Linked DNA regions of Homo sapiens: all the other regions are reported to be linked to region 3. The links are microRNA targets in miRTarBase. Many come from high-throughput screens and were not tested one by one. Region 3 holds a microRNA gene; each other region holds the end of a gene's coding sequence.

Region 1 (7,197 bases), not on the chromosome of region 3:
TTGTAGTAGAATTCAGTTGCAAGAGGGATTGGGGAATCTTAAGGAAAAAATAGAATCTTAAGGAAAAAATAACTGGGTGAGACGTGGACTGTGGACAGGTGTGGAAAAGGCACTCTCCATGGAGGTATGAATATGTAGAGGGCCAAGAGAGGGGAGTACAGGGAGAAATGAGTTGAGCTTGTCTGAAGTGAACTTCAGGAAGAGGAACATAGGCTGGAATTTAGATTATGGGGGCTCTGAACACCAAACTGAGTTTGGACTTAATTGACTTCTGTAGGCAACGAGGAGCCATGGAGATTCTGCTCAGGGAAGTGAGGAACTGGGCATGCCTTAGGAAAATTAACCAGGGGGTGGCTGGCAAGCAAGCAGACAGCAGGAAAGGAACGCTGTGGGGATAGGGAGGAAGAACCTCGCATGACCTTGCTAACACAGCAACATCCCAACCGTTGGTTCGGCCTAGAAGCTGGTATTTGGGCCATCTGTTTCCCATTGTCTTAATTTTCTGCTCATTAGAAATTGAACCCCTAAACCAGTCCACACAAGTACGTTATCTAAGTAATGTTGCATTCTGCTTCTCTTAGACTACTTTTTTTTTTTTTTTTTGAGACAGAGTCTCGCTCTTTCGCCCAGGCTGAAGTGCAGTGGCGCTATCTGCAAGCTCTGCCTCCTGGGTTCACGCCATTCTCCTGCCTCAGTCTCCCGAGTAGCTGGGACTATAGGTGCCCGCCACCATGCCCGGCTAATTTTTCATATTTGTAGTAGAGACGGGGTTTCACCGTGTTAGCCAGGATGGTCTCGATCTCCTGACCTCGTGATCCGCCTGCCTCGGCCTCCCAAGGTGCTGGGATTACAGGCGTGAGCCACTGCACCCAGCCCTCTTAGACTACTTTCTACTCGCGAGATGCAACCCCTATTCCTGGCTGCTGTCTGGCAGCTTTTGTTCTCACTGACATCCTAGTTCCAAGAATAAATCGGATGCTGCAATGCTGCTGTTGGGGATATGCTGACACAGCTCCTCAGAGAGGAGAAAGGTGGTCGTCTCTCTGGTGGAGTTGTCAGAACTGCTCAGTTTAGAGGTTCTTGGAACAAAAGTCGTTTAAACTCACAAAAGAAAGAGATTCTTTAACTCCCAAGAGCTTGACTGGGGTGGGGGAGGCAGCGGGGGACATCCCTGAAGTGTTGAAGTACCTAGGCCAGTAAATAAATGCAGGTCACAGAGACTTAAGTCACAGATTTCTTGACTTCAGACTGCTCACTTGCATGTTCTACAGTTTTTAGACAGATGTGTGTCTCAGCCATTTAAGAAAAACATTGTTTGAGGCCAGGAACGGTGGCTCATGCCTATAATCCCAGCACTTTAGGAGGCTGACGTGGGTGGATCACTTGAGGCTAGGAGTTTGAGACCAGCCTGGCCAACGTGGCAAAACCCCATCTCTACTAAAATACAAAAGTTAGCTGGGTGTGGTGGTGCACGCCTGTGGCTCCAGCTACTTGGAACACTGAGGCAGGAGAATCGCTTGAGCCTGGGAGGCAGAGGTTGCAGTGAGCTGAAATTGTGTCACTGTACTCCACCCTGGGCAACAGAGCAAGACTCTGTCAAGAAAAAAAAAGAAAGAAAGAAAGAAAAAAAAAAAAACACTGAGGACCAGTGCGAAGGAACCCCCAGCCACTGAATCTCCGGCAGAAATTCAGCTGGTTTCATCCCCTCCCCCTTTGCAGGACAAGCTCTTCTTCAGGATTAATGAAATGAACTGAGGCAGTGAGGCCCCTGGGGATGGAAATGGGAGGTAAAAAGGCCCCAGCATTCCTCCCACGCAGTCTTGGAACCACAGACTAGATAGAGACAATTGCTCAGAAGAGGCCCCTGACTGAGAGACGGGGCCCCAGCCCAGTGATGCAAATTCTAAAACACGCTCAAAGAGCAACACATCATTACCGGGAATGGGTGTCAGGGGAAATTAAATATCATCTCCTCATTATTCCCAGCTAGTTAATAAAACAAGCAGATGGTAACAGTCCAGGAGAACAAGATCTCCAGGTACCTGTGCAACTCTTCTTACTGGGTGAAAACCTAGAGGAACTCTGGGATGGTGACACTGTACCCTCCCAGAGCCCCAGTCATGTCTGTTTATCAGAAAGTGCATAAACTTTTCACTCCACTTAACTTCAAAAGCCAAAGACTCATGCAATCCTCAGTACTTAGGATCTTGGAGGAAGTTTCAGAGTTTGAAATTAAATTTCCTTTTATTTTATTTTATTTTGAGATGGAGTCTCACTCTTTTTGCCCAGGCTGGAGTGCAGTGGTGCGATCTCAGCTCACTGCAACCTCCGCCTCCCGGGTTCAAGCGATTCTCCTGCCTCAGCCTCCCCAGTAGCTGGGATTACAGGTGCCCGCCACCAGGCCCAGCTAATTTTTATATTTTTCAGTAGAGATGGGTTTTGCCATGTTGGCCAGGCTGGTCAAATTTCCTTTTAAAAATTTTAACAGGGCCAGGCGCGACGGCTCACGCCTGTAATCCCAGCACTTTGGGAGGCCAAGGCGGGTGGATCACGAGGTCAGGAGATCGAGACCATCCTGGCTAACACAGTGAAACCCCATTTCTACTAAAAAAAAAAAAAAAAAAAAAAAAAAATTAGCGGGGCACGGTGGTGGGCTCCTGTAGTCCCACCTACTCTGAGGCTGAGGCAGGAGAATGGCGTGAACCCAGGAGGCAGAGCTTGCAGTGAGCCGAAATCGCACCACTGCACTCCAGCCTGGGCGACAGAGTGAGACTCCGCCTCAAAAAAAAAAAAAAAATTCTAACAGTTGGCCAGGCGCAATGGCTCATGCCTGTAATCCCAGCACTTTGGGAGGCCGAGGCAGGCAGATCTCAAGACGAGCCTGGCCAACATAGTGAAACCCTGTCTCCACTAAAAATACAAAAAAAAAAAAAAAAAAAAATTAGCTGGGCATGGTGGTGGGCGCCCTGTAATCCTAGTTACTCGGGAGTCTGAGGCAGGAGAATCGCTTGAATCCAGGAGGCGGAGATTGCAGTGAGCCAAGATCCCGCCACTGCACACCAGCCCGGGCAACAGTGCAAGACTACGTCCCCCAAAAAAAAAAAAAAAAAAAAAATCTAACCATTAAAATAATGAGTATTGATGGCATGGAGTCCCCACCTACCGGCCACAGAGAAAAGTACATGTATACAACCAACTTCCTGTCCCACCACCAGGGTCAGAGCACCCGGGAGCACAGGCGAAGAGACAGTTGACGCCGGCTGAGAGGGAGAAGGGGTGGAGCACTAGCTGGCACTGAACACTCACAGTGAGTACGCATTGAGTTTTAAGGTTTTTTGATGGCCATGAGATGTTTATAGAAAATTGTTACAGGTGTGGCGTAACAATCGACTCGCAGTGCCTTATCTTGTAAGAAGCCTCTCCTGGAATAAAGACGCCAGAGTACTGCGACACCGTTTCATGCCTAAATTAACAAGACAAGAGAAGCAGGTCAAGAGAATGCGGAAAGCCCTAGACTAAATGCCGGCAGCTTCAACGATTTCGTCTTTTAAAACTCTGGTGAAAAATAACTAGGTGGATCTGGACCTTATGCTCACAACCCTAAAAATGACATTAATATCAGCATCTGCTATCTTCCAGATGTGACCAAAGAATCGATCAAAACACATGCTTTAGGTCTGCTGGCTAGACAGGACAGAAGCAGTAAGATCCTCCTGAGTCGATGAATTCCTTACTCACTGCTTCTACTGAGGTTTGAGTGGCATAGCACTGTTGTTAGTTCTGGTAACAAACCACTTAGGACATAGAAGACTGGTGAAACTCAACTTTATTAAACTTAAACAGAGAAGCTACTTCTGCACATGTTAAACACACATGGAACCAAACAGCTCGATGGAGACACCCTGCACTGCTTATGGTGATGCTGCAGGAATGGCGGCAGCGATGCCCGCTACACTCCATGGCCTGCTGCACATGTGACAGGACAGTTATTTCATCTATGCTTACACCTGCAGGTCCCTTACCCTAGAAACACTCTATATCTTCTTAGGTACTTCCCTTGAAACAGGATGAGTTCTAGAGGAAATAAAACTGCTGCACTTACAAACCTAGAAATATTCAGGGACCAAGATTAGTTGTTCAGTGACCTAGGAAACCTTAGAATCCTGTAGGTTCCTCAGGAGAGGTGCTTCCAAGTACTTGAGAATCCACAGGCAGAGATGCTTCCCTTTCCATGGTGGATGTGTATGTCACTCCAGGACAAACTGCGGAGTCACGGAGTGTGGAACACATCTGGTTGTGTACAGTACACTATCCCAGAGGAAAATCACAAAGCAACACAACTCTGCAGCAAAAACTAGTCCCAAAGTCAGAAGATAAAACTAGCAAAAACTTTGCACAATATTTAGAGAAAAGCTCTAGGGTGTGGAGAGTACGGGTCTTCCTTTTTCTCCATGCACCAAGCAGAGCACAGTATCATTCCTTAAGCTATAAACAAAAACCCTTTTGTATAAATATTTAAATAGTAACAGACACACTGAACTAGGACAAAAATGACCCACTGGGAAAGAAAGCCTGAGGTATCCCTTTAGTTGCCATGTTTCTTAAACTGGGTTGCTTACACCCATGATCAACACAGTCCATCTTCCTACAGCACTGATTTTATTCAGAGATTTAGGAGAAATGTTTTGTCTTAGAATGAAAAGGGACTGGTAGATATTAATGAATACATGATAGGAGTACAAAAGAAAAGACTGAGGAAATGATAACTTTACCAAGCAGCTTCAAGGATCAACCACACCCTCGATGGTAAGCTTTCTCTTTTTCTAGGGCGACAGATGGAAAAGTTTCCGACCAACGGGAAGGTTACGATCTGGTACCAGTCCAGCACTGACAAATGGAGATATGAGCTCACTCACTCACAGCTGTGCTCACCTTCATGGGAAGAGTCGGCCCTCTACTCCAGTACGATGACACACAAACCCTGGCTGCACTGGGGATTATGGGATCGGCTTCTCTGAAACTCTCTTACTTTTTAAAAATCCTGTAGAAGGATCAGGTAACAGGAAAATGGCCGGTGAATTCTGTAAAAGGAAGTGAGTAGAACTGTTTTGGGTTAGAAAAGAAGCACTTTAGGCAGCCACCATGGGAAGAAGGCGGGTCACCTTCTCACTGAAGATAAGAGACCAAGTGCTGATGGACAGCAACAGGCAGTGTCTGAAAACTAGTCCGATACCATCATGGTCTTTGAGGGAAAATCTGATTCCACTGGGGTTTCCATGTCAATAGTGGACTCAAATTTAAAAAGTCTCCAGTCCATTTCCAGAAGTACAAGTGTTTTCTACATGAGTAGAGGAATCAGAAAGAAACCAACTCAACTCTTTCCTTCCCATCCCTCCTTAAGGTAGAGTCCGACTGCTTTTCTTGCCAATCTTTCATTTAAGTGTCTCCTCCTAACTCCTTTACTTCTTTTTCCTCTTTCTTCTCCTTCATAGAGCAGATCCTTAAGTGGCCTTTCCTTGACTGACATTCATTTTCTTCCCATCTTTCTTTCTTTTTAATCTTTCTATCTTAAAAAATCAACAAAGAAGTCTTTCATTGGCTTTAGATAATTAAAGCCAAGCAAGCTAAACAAATGTTGGTCTTTCCTATAGAAACCACGTTTAAAATGGTTACATAAGCACCAAGCTTCCTACCCCCATCACACACCTTGTCCTTGAGAACTGGTGTTGCTGTGTTTCAGTTCTGTCCAGTTCTCCCTGGTGACCTTTTCCTCCCTTGATTAGTTCCATGGCACTGAAGGCTAAGGAAAAAAGGGAGCGGGTGGGTCCAGGAGGGGACTGACCTAGGAGACAGGCTGATATTTTTTTTTACTTTTAGACAAGTAAGAAATGAAAAAATGTGCAAGACTATTCCCTCAGCAAATGCTCCCTTCAGGTTCGAACTTGGAACTTCCCAGCTTTGGTCATGTATTTTATGCCCTTAAAGGGTTTGTACTTTTCTCCATACATATCCAGACGATTCACCTTGAGTCCTAGAAAGGAGGGAGAGAGGGAAAATAGACATGAGTATTATTCAAAAGGAGCAGGTCGCCTAACTGTTTCTGTTCAATACACTGAAGTCAGTGGGACCGACATTGCTGTGACAGGGAACCACTTATGCAGAGCAGATGGATTCTCCAGTCTTGGGACAGATACTGACAGCAAAAAAAGGCTCCAACAGACAAGCTACCTATGAGAAGACCTGTCCCTGAAGTGGAAAGGGTACAAAGTAATGTGCAGACTAAAATGAGGATAAGGAAAAAATTAGACCACTGCATGATTTTTCTCAAATTATTGGACTGAAAAAATGAATAACAAAACAAATGAATAATGAAGTAAATTATAAATAAAGGAATTAACAATGAAAGTAATTAATAAATGAATGCTTCCTAAGTATTCTCACTAGACTAAGCCAAGAATATTTTATATGGTATAGAGCTTTATAGTTTATTGTTTTAAGATTGAAGAGCTTATACATCAAATGAATTCCAATCACTTAAATTGTATAAGGCCCGTTTGTACAGAAAAACAGAAACTTCATATAAAGCTAAAGTCATCTCCTTTCCACATCACAGAGTTTCTAAGGATTAAAAAAGAAAACACATGAAAAGAGCTTAAAACAGTGCCTGGAACATGGTAAATGCCCCCAAAGTGGTAACTGATGACTACCGTGCTAAGGTCGGCACAGACTATAGTGAACTGACCTGGAAAGGCCCAGTGGTTCCAAAATAGAAATAAGAGCAAACATGAAAGTCTTCTGAAAACAGAAGAAAGGAGTGGAAATTACACTTCAGTTATAGCTGAGAATGCACATGGATTCTCATACTGAAAACCTTGGGAACCTGAAATGAACAACCCTAAGATGATCCAAAAATGGCTAGTGAATACTTCCTTCTACCAATACTGTTTCTTTCTCAGTGTGTCTTAGGCACTTTTATTCAGGTCACTTATGCCAACTTCAAAGGAAGGATTGTAAATTTTCCCCAGAAACATGCCAGAAAAGATGTTACTAAAGATTGTTTATCAGGTAATGAAACTAAACCTTGTAAACAGGAAGCCCAGAAAGGCTTCCTGGTGCCTGCGCCATATGGCAGAAAGCCGTTTTTGTTCCCTTTGGAGCCTCTTGAGCTCTGGGTCACTTACCAGAAATGGCCAGCTG
Region 2 (7,197 bases), not on the chromosome of region 3:
GGCAAATATTAATACATTATCTCTGGACCTTGGCTGATAGAATGCTCACAAGTAAAGCCCATCAGGAGCCCGGAGTTCCAAATTATAAAGCTTGAGGAAACAAAAGTGATACGTACTTCTCTCAGAAAACTTGGAAAACACTGAAAAGCAGAAGGAAGGAGAAAACCTCACATTCCCTTAGCCCTACCCCAAGACAGTATCTTCTTCTCCATGTTGTTTTACACAGCTGAAATCATGTAGCATATACAGAGGCACGTCATAAATTCACAGATGGAAAATAATATGAACAGAGAGATTTGACAGTATATGATACCTACCACTGAGTGGTTTAATTGTTTTTCCAATTAAAAAATAAATCTCATCTCTCAGATCATTGAATCTGAGTTTCTAAGATGAACAAAATCATCACTCAGATTCTTCGGGGAGGCATTTGGCCATTCTACCGTGTCATGCATCTCTGCTTTTGCAGAGGAGGAAGGAGAGACTTTTGTTTAGTAATTTCTCCATATTGGGGTCCTGCTGTGAAAAAGTTTAGCTGTTCTTAGCAAGCACTGGACCAGAACAGCCTCAGCGATTATTTAAGTGATTGTCAGACATGCATCTGATTGAGGTGAGAAGGATATTGCCAGAGAAATATCTTAACTTCTTGTAACTTCTTCAAGCTCCTTAGAGCTGGGTCTTTCTTTCCCCAGGACTCTTCTCAGGGGAGCTCCCGGAGTGCACTCAGGAGCTGATGATTGACGTCACCAAGAGCTACTACCAGAAGTTTTTGCCCCTGACGCAAGTCTAGCATCTCTGCCTCATGTCTTGAATCTGCTTGAGCTCTAAGATGAACCTGGGGACAAAGTGAGCCAGTCAGCACCTACAAAGAGCTTTTGTGTCTTTGACATCTACCACCCTCCTCCTTTTAAAAAATTTCTTTAGAATTTCTCAATCTTCAAGGCTCTAAGTGCTTAAGAATTCACTAACAGACAGACCATCTGGAGGAGCTGTCTTCAAATGCTGTGCTTACACCTTATCTATGAACAGTCACTTTGTACCATTATCTGTGGAACACAGAATCATCTGTTCCCAACACTCCAGCCCCTTGGTCCTGTGGATGGCTGGATCCCGCCTGAAACGGACCTGCAGAGCAGCAGCACCCTTCCGGTGTGGAGGCTATGTAGCTGGTGCGCTGCTCACGGCCATTCACTGCCCATGCTGAGCGCCTCTCACACAGGTAATGCCCAGCTTTTCTGCTGCTAACACATTTGGCCAGTTGTTGCAGTTGCTCATCATCTTGGGAAAGGTGTTTGTGACTTTTCAGAGCCCAGATTCCTGTTGTCTATTAAAACTTGAAGGGAGGGGTGAATAGTGTTTCTCTCTTCTTCCCAAAATGACCTTAGCTGTCCTAGGATAGTTAGTAAAAGACTTTTTAGCATTTTGACCTAGGGCCTTTGGCTTTCACTAAAAGTGGGGACCTCAGTATCCCAGATTGTAATTTTGCCAAGTGTTAGATTTGAGTCTCTCATGTGGATGCATTAGTCAGGTGGTTACTCCTTGCTTCAAGGTACTTACCTTATTTCATTGAAGACACCGCATTTGTGAACTCTTGCTTCCTGGCCTAGAACCATTCAGCCTACCCTGTATTTGCCATAAACTCCACAATTCACACCAAAATGTCTGTACTTAGAGCTAATTCGCATATATACAGGAAGGGCTCTTAGAATCAGTTTGTGGGCACAGAGCCTCAGGAGTAAATGAAGTTACTAGGGCTGTTCTTACCATCTCCTTCTGGCCAAATAGCACAACATTTCCTCGTTCTGCTCTGACCTCTTAGCTTAGAAGGAAGATTCAGAAGTGAGGGGCTAAGAAGGTTGTCCTTGCCTAATGCTCTGATCTGTAAGTGAATAGGGCAGAACAGTTCAGCCTTGAGGTTAGAATTTAGCAGGAGCTATCCTGACTTAATATCCAGTTGTGGGGTTTGCAAAACAAAACAGCTGTATGTAATCATTGCCACTAGTTCCATCTAGAACTCCTTTCTAGTTTGTTATTTTTAAAATGTTTATACATAAAACCACCAAAATACATAGCTTCGACAAGATGGAAGTTTATTTCTCTCTCCCATAACAGTGCAGTGATAGTCAGCTGGTCCAGGCCAGGCAAGGGGCTGGTCCATGATGTCATCAGGCACCCAGGTTCCTACTGTCTTGCCATGTGGCCACAGTTAGCAACAAAGGAGGCTGTAAATTTAGTTTCTACTTGGGCAGCCAAAACTCTGAGGAAGGAGATTCTGCTAGTAAAAAGGAGTGGGGGAAGAATGGCCATTGGGAGACAACAAGCAGACTCAACCAGGCCTCTTTGTTGGCTTCCTTTCCTCCTGCTGCACATGAGCCTTCGCCGTGCATTTGGAGCCATGACAGCTGATAGCTCCAGACCTGCATCCTCCTAGCTTGGGGGCTCTGAATGAAAGGTTTCTTCCCTTCCAGTTCGAATTTGGAAACTCCCAAAGTTCTCAATGGTTTGTTGTGAGTTCCATGTCCTCTTGGATCAGTCACTGTGGCCATGCATGTTTGGCCACATGATTAATCCAGTCTGGGTCATGACCTTTTCTTCATCCAAAACAAGGTGATGGGAAGACAAAAACAATAGCTACTACAAACAATAGGAGTTTATAATTATGTGCTGATGTATTCGAAGATGTGTTGACAGTCGTGAGTGTGTATCCTAGGAAAGGCGAGCTGGACTCTGTCTCCATGGTGGCTCTCACCCCAGGGACCTAGGAACAGCCTGTCACCACACAATTACTTTTATAACCCTGGAGATGAAAATCTCCTTGTCCTCAAAATACTTCCAGAAGAACAACCAGATGGGAAGGACCTTGGTTGGGACTCTTTCCAGTTCACTTGGGGCAGAGGGAATTTAATGGCTCACGTAGCTGAAAAGGATGGGCTAGATTGGGCTTCAGGCTGCATCCCAGGACTCCAAACAGGGATCTGTCTCTTTGGCTCTCAGCTCTGCTTTCATTTGAGTTGGCTTTATTCTTGGGCTTCACAGTGTGGCCCCACAGCACCAGTTATTGATAAAAAGAGCTCCCCTTTGCTGACAGAACTGCTGGATTTGGTTCTCATTGGTCCAGACGAGGAAGGTATCCAGCCTCAAGTCATCATTGTGGCCAGGAAGATGGAATACACCAAATGGACAGGCCTGGCATGTACCCACAGAGACTGAGAGTTGGTGCTGGTGGTTGTGGTGGCAGATGATATTACCTGAAGAAGGGACGAATGGGTGCTGGGCAGGACAAAGCATCAGCTGTCCAGTTCAGGCCTCTCCTCTTTCCCTGGTGTCTTCATTTTCCTCCGTCTCCCTGCTGTCCCTTACCCTCTGCCCAATCTCTCATTACTCCTGGTCTTGGGAGTTGCCTTCTGAGGATACTCCACTGGGGGTACCTGAGCCTGGATTAGAGGGCAGGGGGAGGATATTGCCTAGCCAAAGTGGGTGTTCAATAAAGAACCATTTGGAGATGGTCTTCTGTCTGGAACTGCTTCCTTTTTGTTTTATTATTTTTCCCCAGATGAGCTGACTGGGCCATGGAACTGCATCCTTATGGTTCCCATAGCACCTTACCGAGGCGCCCTTATCAATAGAGTTTTAGTTATGTACCTGTGTTCTTGTCTGAACCCCTACTAACTGTGAGCTCCTGAGGAGTCAGGCCTGAGTCTGTGGGTCATCTAGCACATCCTTAATAGAATGATTGCCTGGATGTGACCACCCTCACCCCCAACCCTCACACACCCTGCCAGCATGCCTCAGACCTTACCCCAGCTCAAGATAAGTCTCAGATTGCAGGATACCTGCTGCAGGGAACAAAGGTGAATGATTGTCTTGTGAGCCTCCTGTTGACTGATTCTGTTTTACATGGCTGCACAGAGCCCTTGTGGTTATTTGGGGTTGGGGTGGTGGCTTCTGTATTAGTCACTTCTGCATGAACCATTTCACTCAGGATCTGAGGCCACAGTTCCTTTCTTAGTCACTGATACATCTGGCAGACTTGAAATTAATCAGACAAACATTGTTCATAGTTAACATATCCTTGGAAGTTTCTCAGCTATAAGGAAGAGGTCTTGGTGGCTAGGGAGGCCTTTCTCTGTATCCTGTTCTATCCAGTGAGAGCCTAGAGGGTGCTGCCCAGCCATATTCTGGCTAGCCTCAGCGGTTCTCCTGAAAAAAAATTGGCATCTGACAACCTGGATGGTGACTATAGGTAGTCAAATCCAGCTGGCTGGTCTCCTGGGGGTTAGCTTCCATGGAGCTGCAAGTCCCCTGAAATGATACTGGCAGTGTTGGGACAGCGTGTCCGAAGGCCTGGTTTTTTCAGAACTGGTCTCAGCAAAATGTCTCGCCAACTTCTACAGTTCCCATAAGTACATGATAACTGAAACACTTCTAGAGCCCCCCAGCAATGGGCTTGTGCTTTTAGTAGAATATGTGCTTGCTTCCATTTAGGGGTAAGAAGGTGGGCCCCTCACCATATGCTGCACAGAGAAGAGAGACACCATCACTCATTTATTCATTTAACAAGTGCTTTCCAAGCCACTACTAGGTGCCAAGCACTTCCTAGGTCCTGGGGATACAGTGGAGACTAAGATGGAGCCAGTTCTTTCTCATAGGGATCTCACAGCTTAGTGAGTGAGAAAGCCAAAGAGTCAAAATACAGAGAGGGTCTGAGGGGCCCATTTTGAGAGCCATCATAGTGGTGAGGAGTGTGAGTGCTAGAGTCAGGCTGATCAAATCCCAGCCTGCCATTGGCTAGCCTTGTGACTTTGAGCAAGTTATCTTACTTCGTGGAACCTCAGGTTTCTCATCCATAAAATGGGGAAGTTGGATAGGGTATTATGATGATTGAAATGCATTTATACATGTAAAGCATAAGTACTGGCTCAGGGTGAGCACTCAATAAACGGCAGTTTATTAGGCACTTTTATTAGGAAGTGATACACCTTGAGCAAAACCCCTTAGAGTATAAGGCATAGCATTCTTACATATTTTTAAAATTTAAAATAAAATTTAAAACATCTTGCCCTTTATAATCAGTCCGCCACAAACAAGAGATGGAGAAATCACCCTTCCTTGTTTTGTATCTATGGGGTGCAAACATTTAATCCTCCCAACTGTCAAAAAAGTGAGAGTTTCACAGCCTGTTTTACAGCAGAGGAAACTGATATTCAGAGAGGTTAAGTAAATTTGCCCAATGCCACACATCTAATAAATGGCTGAGCTGGAATCAAGGCCAGCTCTTACTTGGCTGCAAAATCCATGTTTTATGCAGCTCCTCCACTATCTTGGCCTCCAAGGCAGCTGGCTTTGAACACTACCCTTGCAGCCCAGTCAGCCAATCCCTTGCTCTCCTGAAGCTTTTGCTGGTGGGCCAGCCCCACCTGCTTTCCTTGTGCACTCTGACTTGGACCCTGAAGTGAGAAGAGTTGGCACAGGACATCTTACTTCCCTGAAAACAGTACCTGGACTTTTCTGTATCTTCACATCCATTGGGCATTGGGCAAATGGGTCATGCAGATGAAAACCATCCAAGATAAGAGACATGGGAGTGAAATTCACACCCACTCTGGCTTTCATACCATGGGTCTGAACATTAGCCCATGGTGTTTCTTGGCCATACTGACCTGTGCCATTTCAGCTGCATTCATCTCAGTTGGTGTTGTCTGCTGGCTGCTCTTTCTGATTTCCCACAGGAGCAGTAAGAACCTGAGGAAGAGTAGGGTCAGAGGAGTCTGGGAGAATGAGGAAATATGAGAGCCCCAGGAACTGAAAAGGCCTGTGAGAGACTCTGAGCTTCCTGGGAACAGGTATAGGTTCTTTTTATTTCAATAATAACAGAAACAACTGTCAAAACCATGTGCCTGTACTATTTGGAGTGCTGTCCTTGCAGAATCTCATTATAAGAACCTTAGGAAATAGGCACATCATCTCCTGGATAGAATCCTAGGAAATGGGCACTATAATGGGCACTTTATCCCATTTTATAAACATGGAAATTGAGGCACAGAGAGATTAAGTACTTTCCCAAGGTCATACAGCTAGTGATGGAGGAGCTAGCATTTGAACCCGGAGTTTTTAGTCTATTGAGTTTAACCGACAGATCATACTGTGTTTTGGTAGGGAGGGAGGGAGGAAGCAAGCAAGTGAACAAATGAGTCTGGGATTTAGGACTTGCCAGACAAACAAGGCCCAAGAGGCAAGTGTGCAGGTGGGTGTAGTTGGGAGTCAGCAGAGTTGGGTTGGAATTCAAGCTTTGCCACCTGCTGGCTATAAACCTTGGTTGGGTAAGTAACCCAAGGTAAATGAGATCATCTCTGTAAAACTCTTAGCCTTGTGCCTGGCACATAGTAAATGCTTAATAAGGGTTCACTGTTAGTATTACTGTTACTGATAACATACAAATAGATTGTATTAATGGACCATAATTGCAACTGTATAAAACAAATTCCATGTTTGGCCAGGCGCAGTGGCTCAAGCCTGTAATCCCATCACTTCGGGAGGCCGAGGTGGGCAGATCACGAGGTCAGGAGATCAAGACCATCCTGGCTAACACAGTGAAACCCCATCTCTACTAAAAATACAAAAAAATTAGCCAGGCATGGTGGCGGGTGCCTGTATTCCCAGCTACTTGGGAGGCTGAGGCAGGAGAATGGCGCGAACCCAGGGGGCGGAGCTTGCAGTGAGCTGTAATTGTGCCACTGCACTCCAGCCTGGGCGACAGAGCGAGACTCCGTCTCAAAAAAAAAAAAAAAAACCACAACAACAACAACAAAAATTCCATGTTGACAAGGATGGGAATATGAGAACATGGAAACAGCTATGAAAAGACATAAGAGAATTAGGAGGATTTTCTTTAATATATCATTTTTTAAAAAAAAACTTGCTTGTATTTGTTTATTTTTTAAATAGAGACAGGGTTTTACCATGTTGCCCAGACTAGTCTTGAACTCCTGGGCTCAAGCGATCTTGGCCTCCCTAAGTGCTGGGATTACAGTCATGAGCCACTGTGCCCCGCCATTTTTTAATAAACCTTTCTAATGGAACAAGTAAAACACATGCAGTGGATGCTCAGCAGGCCTTGAGTGTGTGAATGAAAAATATTTGAACTTGTTTTTACTGGTTGATTTCATTGCTTAAAAAACATACCTTAGCTGGACGCAG
Region 3 (7,197 bases):
GAAGTATTGAATCAGAAAATATAGGTTTAAGAAGAGTTCATAAAAATATGTAGATAAGCCATCGATACATGCTAACTGCCATGTTATTTCACAAAACTTCCTCTGGGGCTGGATAGAACACTGGACAGGCTGCAAGTGGCAACTTTCACATTCAAAGTACACATTGTACTAAGATGAAAGGATTCATCAGGACTCCATGGTGTGATCCACAAAGCAAAGCTAGACTCAAGTGGCTTGTCTCCCGGGGAAGAAAACATGTCAAGGTGACTGTGTTCTCTGCTGCCTCCCCAGCACGAGTGTGATTTTTAACTGCACGTCCAAGTGAACCCTTTCATCTTGCAAACCATATTCAGAGTCAGTACCTGTCCCCAGGAATGCTTTATTGGAAATGACTGGCAGTAATCATCCTGGGGAGGGAAGGGGAGATAAAAGCTGGTCTGGGAAGATGCCATCATCAGAGATTTGGAGCAGCAGGATTGTAATTAGAGGTAGAAAGGGGAGAGGGAAGCTTTGCCTTCTATGTGTGTTCCTTAGAGATCTACAGAAATGACAGGTCTCCAATCCCGAATGCAAAACGAATCCAGGCAGCAATCATAATAAGCCATTAAATGAGCCAACCTAGCAGAAAAGACACAGAATGCTATTCACTTGGCTCCCTGTTTAATTCCACCTGAGAAAAATCTCAGGGTGAGTGGGAGTGAAAAGGAGCATGGAAGACCCAGTCCTCACATTGTCCCCGAGTCTGGGAACAGTTCAGAACCTCAAGACTCTGGGTCATTTGGTGCCACATCAGGTGGCTGGGTCATGTAGATGGCTGCTTGGTGTTGGGACAGTTTGTCTACCCTCTTCCTGACCCCAAAGCTACCACTTAGATGTTCCTTCTCTTTCATTTCATGATTACAGGGTTTTGCAATTTTCAGCTTTCTCTGCACAATGAACACTCACAAGGAGACATTCTTATATGGCTCATCCCTCTCTAATTTACAGGTTTTCCCTCAGAATCCACTGACAAAGCAGATGGGGAGATGAGGATATTGATCGCATACTGGCGTGATTAACCCAGGTTCTACACAGATTCGACTGTGAAGCATGAGATTTCACAAAATAACTAGGCCAAAGGAGGCTGCAGGTACAGGACAGAACTTTAGACTTAAGAGATCCATGTTGAGTTGTGGCTGGAGGACCAGACGATTCCAGAACCCTTTAGACTCTGTTTGTCAAACCGATCATCTTTGCCCCATGTTGTATGGATCAAATGAAATGGCATGTGATATGGTTTGGCTGAGTCCCCATCCAGATCTCGGCTTCAATTGTATCGCACAGAATTCCCACGTGCTGTGGGAGGGACCCAGGGAAAGGTAATTGAATCATGGGGGTCAGTCTTTCCCCTGCTATTCTCATGATAGTGAATAAGTCTCACGAGATCTGATGGGTTTATCAGGGGTTTCCACTTTGGCTTTTTCCTCATTTTCTATTGCTGATGCCACGTAAGAAGTGCCTTTCATCTCCCGCCATGATTCTGAGGTCTCCCTAGCCATGTGGAACTGTAAGTCCAATTAAACCTCTTTTTCTTCCCAGTCTCGGGTATGTCTTTGTCAGCAGCATGAAAACACAGACTAATACAGTGTGCATGAGCGTGATCTGTATAACAGTAGAGCCCTCTATTAATGCCTGTTCAATTAGAGCCTTTGCCAAAAAAATACACACAAAAAGGAATGTCAGTGTCTCAATTATTTCAGGGAGTCTGATTCTCTTCTTGACAGTAGATGGTGCCAGGAGGGAAGAAATGAGAGGTGGTAAGAGATGCAGGGCAGGCAGGGGTGCTCTTCTTCTTCTTTGGACAGAGGCATCTCATGACCTTGAAGCCTTTGTAGTGTATCATAAATGTGTGGGCTGCATTCAGGTGAGGCTTTCCAGCAAGGGACTCAGAATTATTTCGCAAAGTTTTGCTCATTTGGCTCCCGTTTGGAACAATTACAATGGTCCCAAAATATAATGCGAGCCAGTGAATGCCCATCTCTGGAAATAACATCAGACACATTTAATTTAAAAGTGTCTTCAATGCCTAGGACAGTGTCAGGCACACGGTAGTCTCTACACATATTTATTTCATAAGTGAATGGTTGAATGGTTGAATTTGTTTCTGATGGTTGATCTAACCCTGTCTATTTGATTAAACATGTCCTACTTCATTTAACCAAGCCTGGGGAGGGAAGCTTTAGTCTGGCACAAACGAAACCTACTCCTGACTTTAGACACCTCTCAGAGACAGAATGGGTTCCAAACCAGAGCACCTGGCTGGGCCAACTGTCCTAGAAACTGCATGGGTCCCAGATTTGCTATGGCAGCTCACACATGCTTCATAAACAATTTTCTGATGGTAATTCACTGATGCAAGAGGAAGAAAGGCCTAGTGTACGAATTCAGTAATCAGCCTAGTAATTGATTGAAATCAGTAGAAATCAAACATATTCTAGAATTTCTGAAACGTCAGTGAAACCATGTGTAAGTTTATTAGAAAGTTGGATTTTTTAACGACGAAAAGAGAAGGACCCACACACCTTAATTTTGTACCTATAAGCTTGCGGTCTGTCTGCATAACATAGATTTAGCCCAGTCTTAGCCTTCTGCGTCTAACACTTTCCTAACTATTCATTTTAAGTCTATAAGCATGGGTTAAATGATTACCTCGTGCCTGGCCTTGTGTTGGGGGCTCTGAGGAACTCTGCAATCTTTTTATTTTCATTTTTTGAGACAGGATCTTGCTCTGTCACACAGGCTGGAGTGCAGTGGTACCATCACAGCTCACTACAGCCTCAACCTCGTGGGCTCAATTGATCCTCCCACCTCAGCCTCTCAAGTAGCTGAGATTACAGGCACATGCCACCATGCCTGGCTAATTTTTGTAGTTTTTGTAGAGACACGGTTTCACCATGCTGCCCAGGCTGGACTTGAACTCCTGAGCTCAAGTGATCCGCCTGCCTTGGCCTCCCAAAGTGCTGGGATTTCAGGCGTGAGCCACCGTGCCTGGTCTGCAATCTTTTTATTGACTTGGGAAAACAAGAAAATTAATCACCAGCTAAGGTATGTAACAACAGCATGTGAGAGGCAGGGTTCAGCTAACCATATTGGTTATGAGTGCAAAAGAGCCAGACTTTATTCAGTAAGTACACAAGATTGAGAAGACTGATATCAGATGAACCTTCTTGCTCAAAGCAAACGATGCCAAGACATTTATCGAGGGAAGGATTGCCTAGCAGTAGCTATTTAGTGTGATAATGGCGTTTGATAGTTTAGACACAAACACCATTGTCACACTCCACAGCTCTGCTAAGGAAACTCTGTAGCCACGAAGGTGTTAACTTCACCTCCACATTCCACCATTGTCACTGATAATAGGGGAACCTTGTCAGCTCCACATATTGTGACCTAAGCAGAGAAAAGAAGCATCACGGGTACAAGCATCTTGAGCAATGGGAAGAGCTGAACACTCTCAATGAAAGGCTTCTGTGTTCTGGAACAGTAGAGTAGTAGAGGGGTCCACTGCCTGTGTTCCACTGCCACCCAGCAAACCCCTTCTGCAAAAACTTCCTGTGAAAATGGACAGGAACTCTGTTTGCAACAATTTTCTAAAATGGCTGAGAGAGAAAGAATCTCTAGAGGGAATAGATTTCTGGAAATAAATACTTATTGGAAGACTACATTATAAATGAGAATAATCTGGCCGAATGAATGGATACTCTCCAACTCTCACCTCTTCACCTACTTCCCAATCCATCATCAGTAAATGTGATCAATTCTGCAGTCTAGGAAAATTAAAATTATTTTATATGGGGATACAGCAGTTAGATGTGTTGTGATCTACTCTCCGTGGCATCTATTGGATATAAAGGCATCTGGTCTTGCTCAAATGTTCAATCTTCTTGACCACAGTCATTTTCCACCATGGCGGTGGGTGGGAGATGAGGGGAGAGAAGAAAGAGAGGAAGATGGAGAGAGAGGAAACGAGTCCATTTTTAGTTCATGATACTCATTTTCTAGCAAAAAGGGAGCTCCAAATAAATCCCTACAGGATTTACTTGGCTTTCCTGTTAAAGATGGTTTATAATTGTTATGTGAACTCCTGCCCACCATGGAGAATGAGAGGAAATAAAGCATTTTACCTACTCCTTCTTTTCCTGCAAATGCTGAAAAGGGAAAGGGTTGGGAGCCAGTTATTTTTTCCCCAGGATAACTGAGTTGTTAACATCTGACCAGAGTCTTGCTTTAGCCCTAAAACCGGCCCATCTTTAACAGCTGTAAATGAACCCTTCCGTATTTTTCAGAAAAAAAAAAAAAAAATTGCGCCTTATTCTCATGTAGATCCTGAAATCACCCTCTTCAAGCTGGACTTGCAGTGATTATCCCCCTGCGAAAGCTGAAAGTCGTTCTGCTCCCATGGGTTGGAGTGTTGAAGTTGCCTCTTTTTTTCTTTCCCTTTTTCACTTTGTGGATTCGTTATCTTCCCCTAAGTGACTGATTTCCTTTGGTTCCTGTCTGTGGCCCTGGCTTTCTTTCATGAAATGTGGTCATTTGCAAGGCAGCAGGCCGTGCCAGTGCTACACATACTCTCTTAGGTGGGACTCGCCTCCTGGGCAGTTTTCCATGACTCAGAGAGAATGACTACGAACCCTAGAACTGCTCTAGGTGGCCCCAGTCACTGCCACAAACCCCTAGCACTCTGGGTGTGGCCAGCAGTGGACACAGGCATGTGGTGGCCCATCTTGTCCTTCCCTTTCCCTACAGCTCCTCCTAACACAGTAGCCAGGCTTGTCCTGCTTAGTCTTTGCTGAGGGACCTAGAACAGAAATCGCCACCTCCTGGTCATACCAGGGCTATCGCTGACCATCCACAAGAGGCTCTAGAAGTCTCTTAGCTCTGCTGGGAAGAAACAGTGAGAGGTGAACAATTCACTGATTAAAAGGGTCCCCGGAGGATGCGCTTGGAGCGCTCTATCCTGGGCAAGGGCTTGGACCCATTTCACTTCTCAGGGCTCCATAGCAGTATCTGAGCATCCTCCACTTCTCCATGGGGGCTCTGTTGGCTTTTGGCTTTGAATAATCTGCAAAATACAGAAAAGGGAAGGAACAGATGGAAGATGAAAAGAGATGAGGAAGTTAATGCATTACAGGTAAATCTTACCAACTCCCCACCCCCCAAATCAACCTTTACAGGTAAATCTTACCAACTCCCCCCACCCCAAATCAACCTCAATTTCTATGGCCCAGAAATCTATCTCCAGGAAAATGTCAAAAATTTGTAGAAAGATTTACCTATAAGGTTGCTCATAGTGGCATTGTTTATAAGGGTAAACATTGGAAACAACCTAAATGTCCAGCTATAGGAGAAGAGTAATATATTTATGATAGACCATAATTATTTAAATTGATTCTGTAGAAAAGTCTGGTAGACTTGGAAATTCAAGATATGTTATTGAATTAAAAAACAGTTTATAAAACAATATACACAGTATGAGTCCCTTTCTGTGAAAAAATGCATACATGCCTGAGGCCAAAACATCAAATGTTAACCATGGTTATCTTTCAGTAGAGAAATTATGGTTTGTTTTCATTTTCTCCTTTTGTGTGCATTTGTTAATTTATGATTCATATGGCACTTTTTTATTGAGAAAAATGAGGATTTAAAAACTTTTAGGCAATTTTCTTTCTGGACTCTCAATACAAATTCCTTCTTGCAAAATACTCTTCTGAAATTGGGAAGGTTGGAACCCATCCTGCTCATATACAACTTGTCACAAGCATGAAAAGTTAGTGCTGTGCTGAGTGGCAGGCCTCAGGCTAATTTTTTAGCAAATTATTAGTGAAATACTTTATTATGCAGTACAATAATTTTATGGTATTATTGCATCAATCACTAAACACATATTGAGTGCCAATCATTTTCTGTCTTGTGAGCAATTTTTAAACATTGCTAAAATGGCCAACATCTTTTATTACTACTTTGTTTCTGCAGAGGTGGTTAAACTGTCAATTTACAAAGCAGTTTAAACAAACAAGCAGAAGGTTTTCTTTTTTTAAAAAAAAAAAGTCATCCAATAATATATCGCTAGTAAAATAAATTAAAAGTGGTTAGTGTCAGGATCCACTTTTGAATATTTTAAACATTCACAAAATAATTTCTCATTCTGCAGATTTTTAATGTTCTAGTATTTTCAAACTTAACAACTGAACTTAAATAGTACGAGCTAATAACAAATAGAAACATTATACACTGGTTGGGAAGTATTAACACGTTATTTCCTTTGAAAAAATAATGCTTAAGGCAAAGATGTTTGATATTAAGCAGGGTGACTTGTCCAAATGCCAGCACAATTTTCTACAGTGTGGAAAAGGCCTTGAGGGATTCTGTTTAGCTTCCCTGGGCCCCGATCCCATCCACATAAATCTCCCACCATCTCTCTTTATGCCTTACTTCCTGAGATCTCCCTGAGAAAGGTAGAGTGCTAGCCATTCCTGAATGGCAGTCTATTAATACTAAATTTCTCCTGGAGTCTCAGCTACTCAGGAGTCTTAGGCAGGAGGATCCCTTGAGCCCAGTTGTTTGAGATCCCATTTCTAAAGAAAACACACACACGAAATTTCTGTGTGCTGTCATCTTCCTGCACTCGTCTTCCCAACAGTGATGAAATCTCCAGGCATCTCTAGCTGCTGTGGCCAATTCAGAATGCAGCTTTCCCACTGGATCCGTGAGTATGAAAAACAGGCTAGATTTGGTTTGCTCCTCTTTTAATGCCCTGCATTTCTTTTCATAAGTGAGAAAAAAAGCTCATTAAGGAGGAAGCTTTTACAAAGCCAGACCCTCCAGCAAATTCACCACTCTGTACGCATTCTGTATGCACCACAGCTCCCAGCGTGACGTCTTAGATTCACAAGTACCAGGAATATCGCAACACTCACTTTCTCAGGTCAGATCTGGGCACGAGCAGCTTGTCTTTGCTTTAAGATGTTGTTCCCAGGGGCTGAGAGCATTCTAGGGCCAACCCCATAGGGGGTTTGGGTGCTTTGGGGACTGTGAAGTGTCACCTTGCTGCAAACCTAACCCATCAGTACCAAAAAAAAATTTCTTAAAAAGTGAAAGATAAGTGGAGATGCTTTTTACTCTGAATCCACGTTTACTGCCATTTAAAATAGATGTGTT

What was found. The annotated mature microRNA hsa-miR-122-5p reads UGGAGUGUGACAAUGGUGUUUG and lies in region 3 at 3,301-3,322, opposite strand. An mRNA with a match to its seed (bases 2 to 7 or 8) in the 3' UTR can be bound and repressed. Matches are read on the target gene's strand: a 7mer-m8 pairs with bases 2 to 8, a 7mer-A1 pairs with bases 2 to 7 and ends in A, and an 8mer does both.
Region 1: miRTarBase lists AP3M2 as a target of hsa-miR-122-5p. Seed matches in the 3' UTR shown: 7mer-m8 at 4,275-4,281.
Region 2: the mRNA of DCTN5 is a reported target of hsa-miR-122-5p. Seed matches in the 3' UTR shown: 8mer at 1,075-1,082 and 7mer-A1 at 6,738-6,744.

What each region holds. Positions count from the first base shown.
Region 1 is chr8:42,167,795-42,174,991 of GRCh38, reverse strand. AP3M2 (adaptor related protein complex 3 subunit mu 2) reads right to left here. Exons shown (of 9, transcript NM_006803.4): 8 at 7,182-7,197; 9 at 3,809-6,031. The coding sequence ends at 5,931. It overlaps PLAT (plasminogen activator, tissue type), which reads left to right. Exons shown (of 14, transcript NM_000930.5): 14 at 1-274. Among named protein-coding and RNA genes, the nearest start is that of AP3M2, 18 kb to the right of the region's middle. RefSeq lists enhancers at 1,539-1,618, 2,266-2,765, 2,766-3,267, 3,047-3,341.
Region 2 is chr16:23,666,355-23,673,551 of GRCh38, forward strand. It overlaps DCTN5 (dynactin subunit 5), which reads left to right. Exons shown (of 6, transcript NM_032486.4): 6 at 693-7,197. The coding sequence ends at 790. Among named protein-coding and RNA genes, the nearest start is that of PLK1, 8.9 kb to the right of the region's middle. RefSeq lists an enhancer at 4,060-4,289.
Region 3 is chr18:58,447,213-58,454,409 of GRCh38, reverse strand. MIR122 (microRNA 122) reads right to left here and starts at 3,336; the gene lies at 3,252-3,336. It overlaps MIR122HG (MIR122 host gene), which reads right to left. Exons shown (of 3, transcript NR_170245.1): 2 at 4,870-5,101; 3 at 3,129-3,591. It overlaps MIR3591 (microRNA 3591), which reads left to right and starts at 3,258; the gene lies at 3,258-3,330.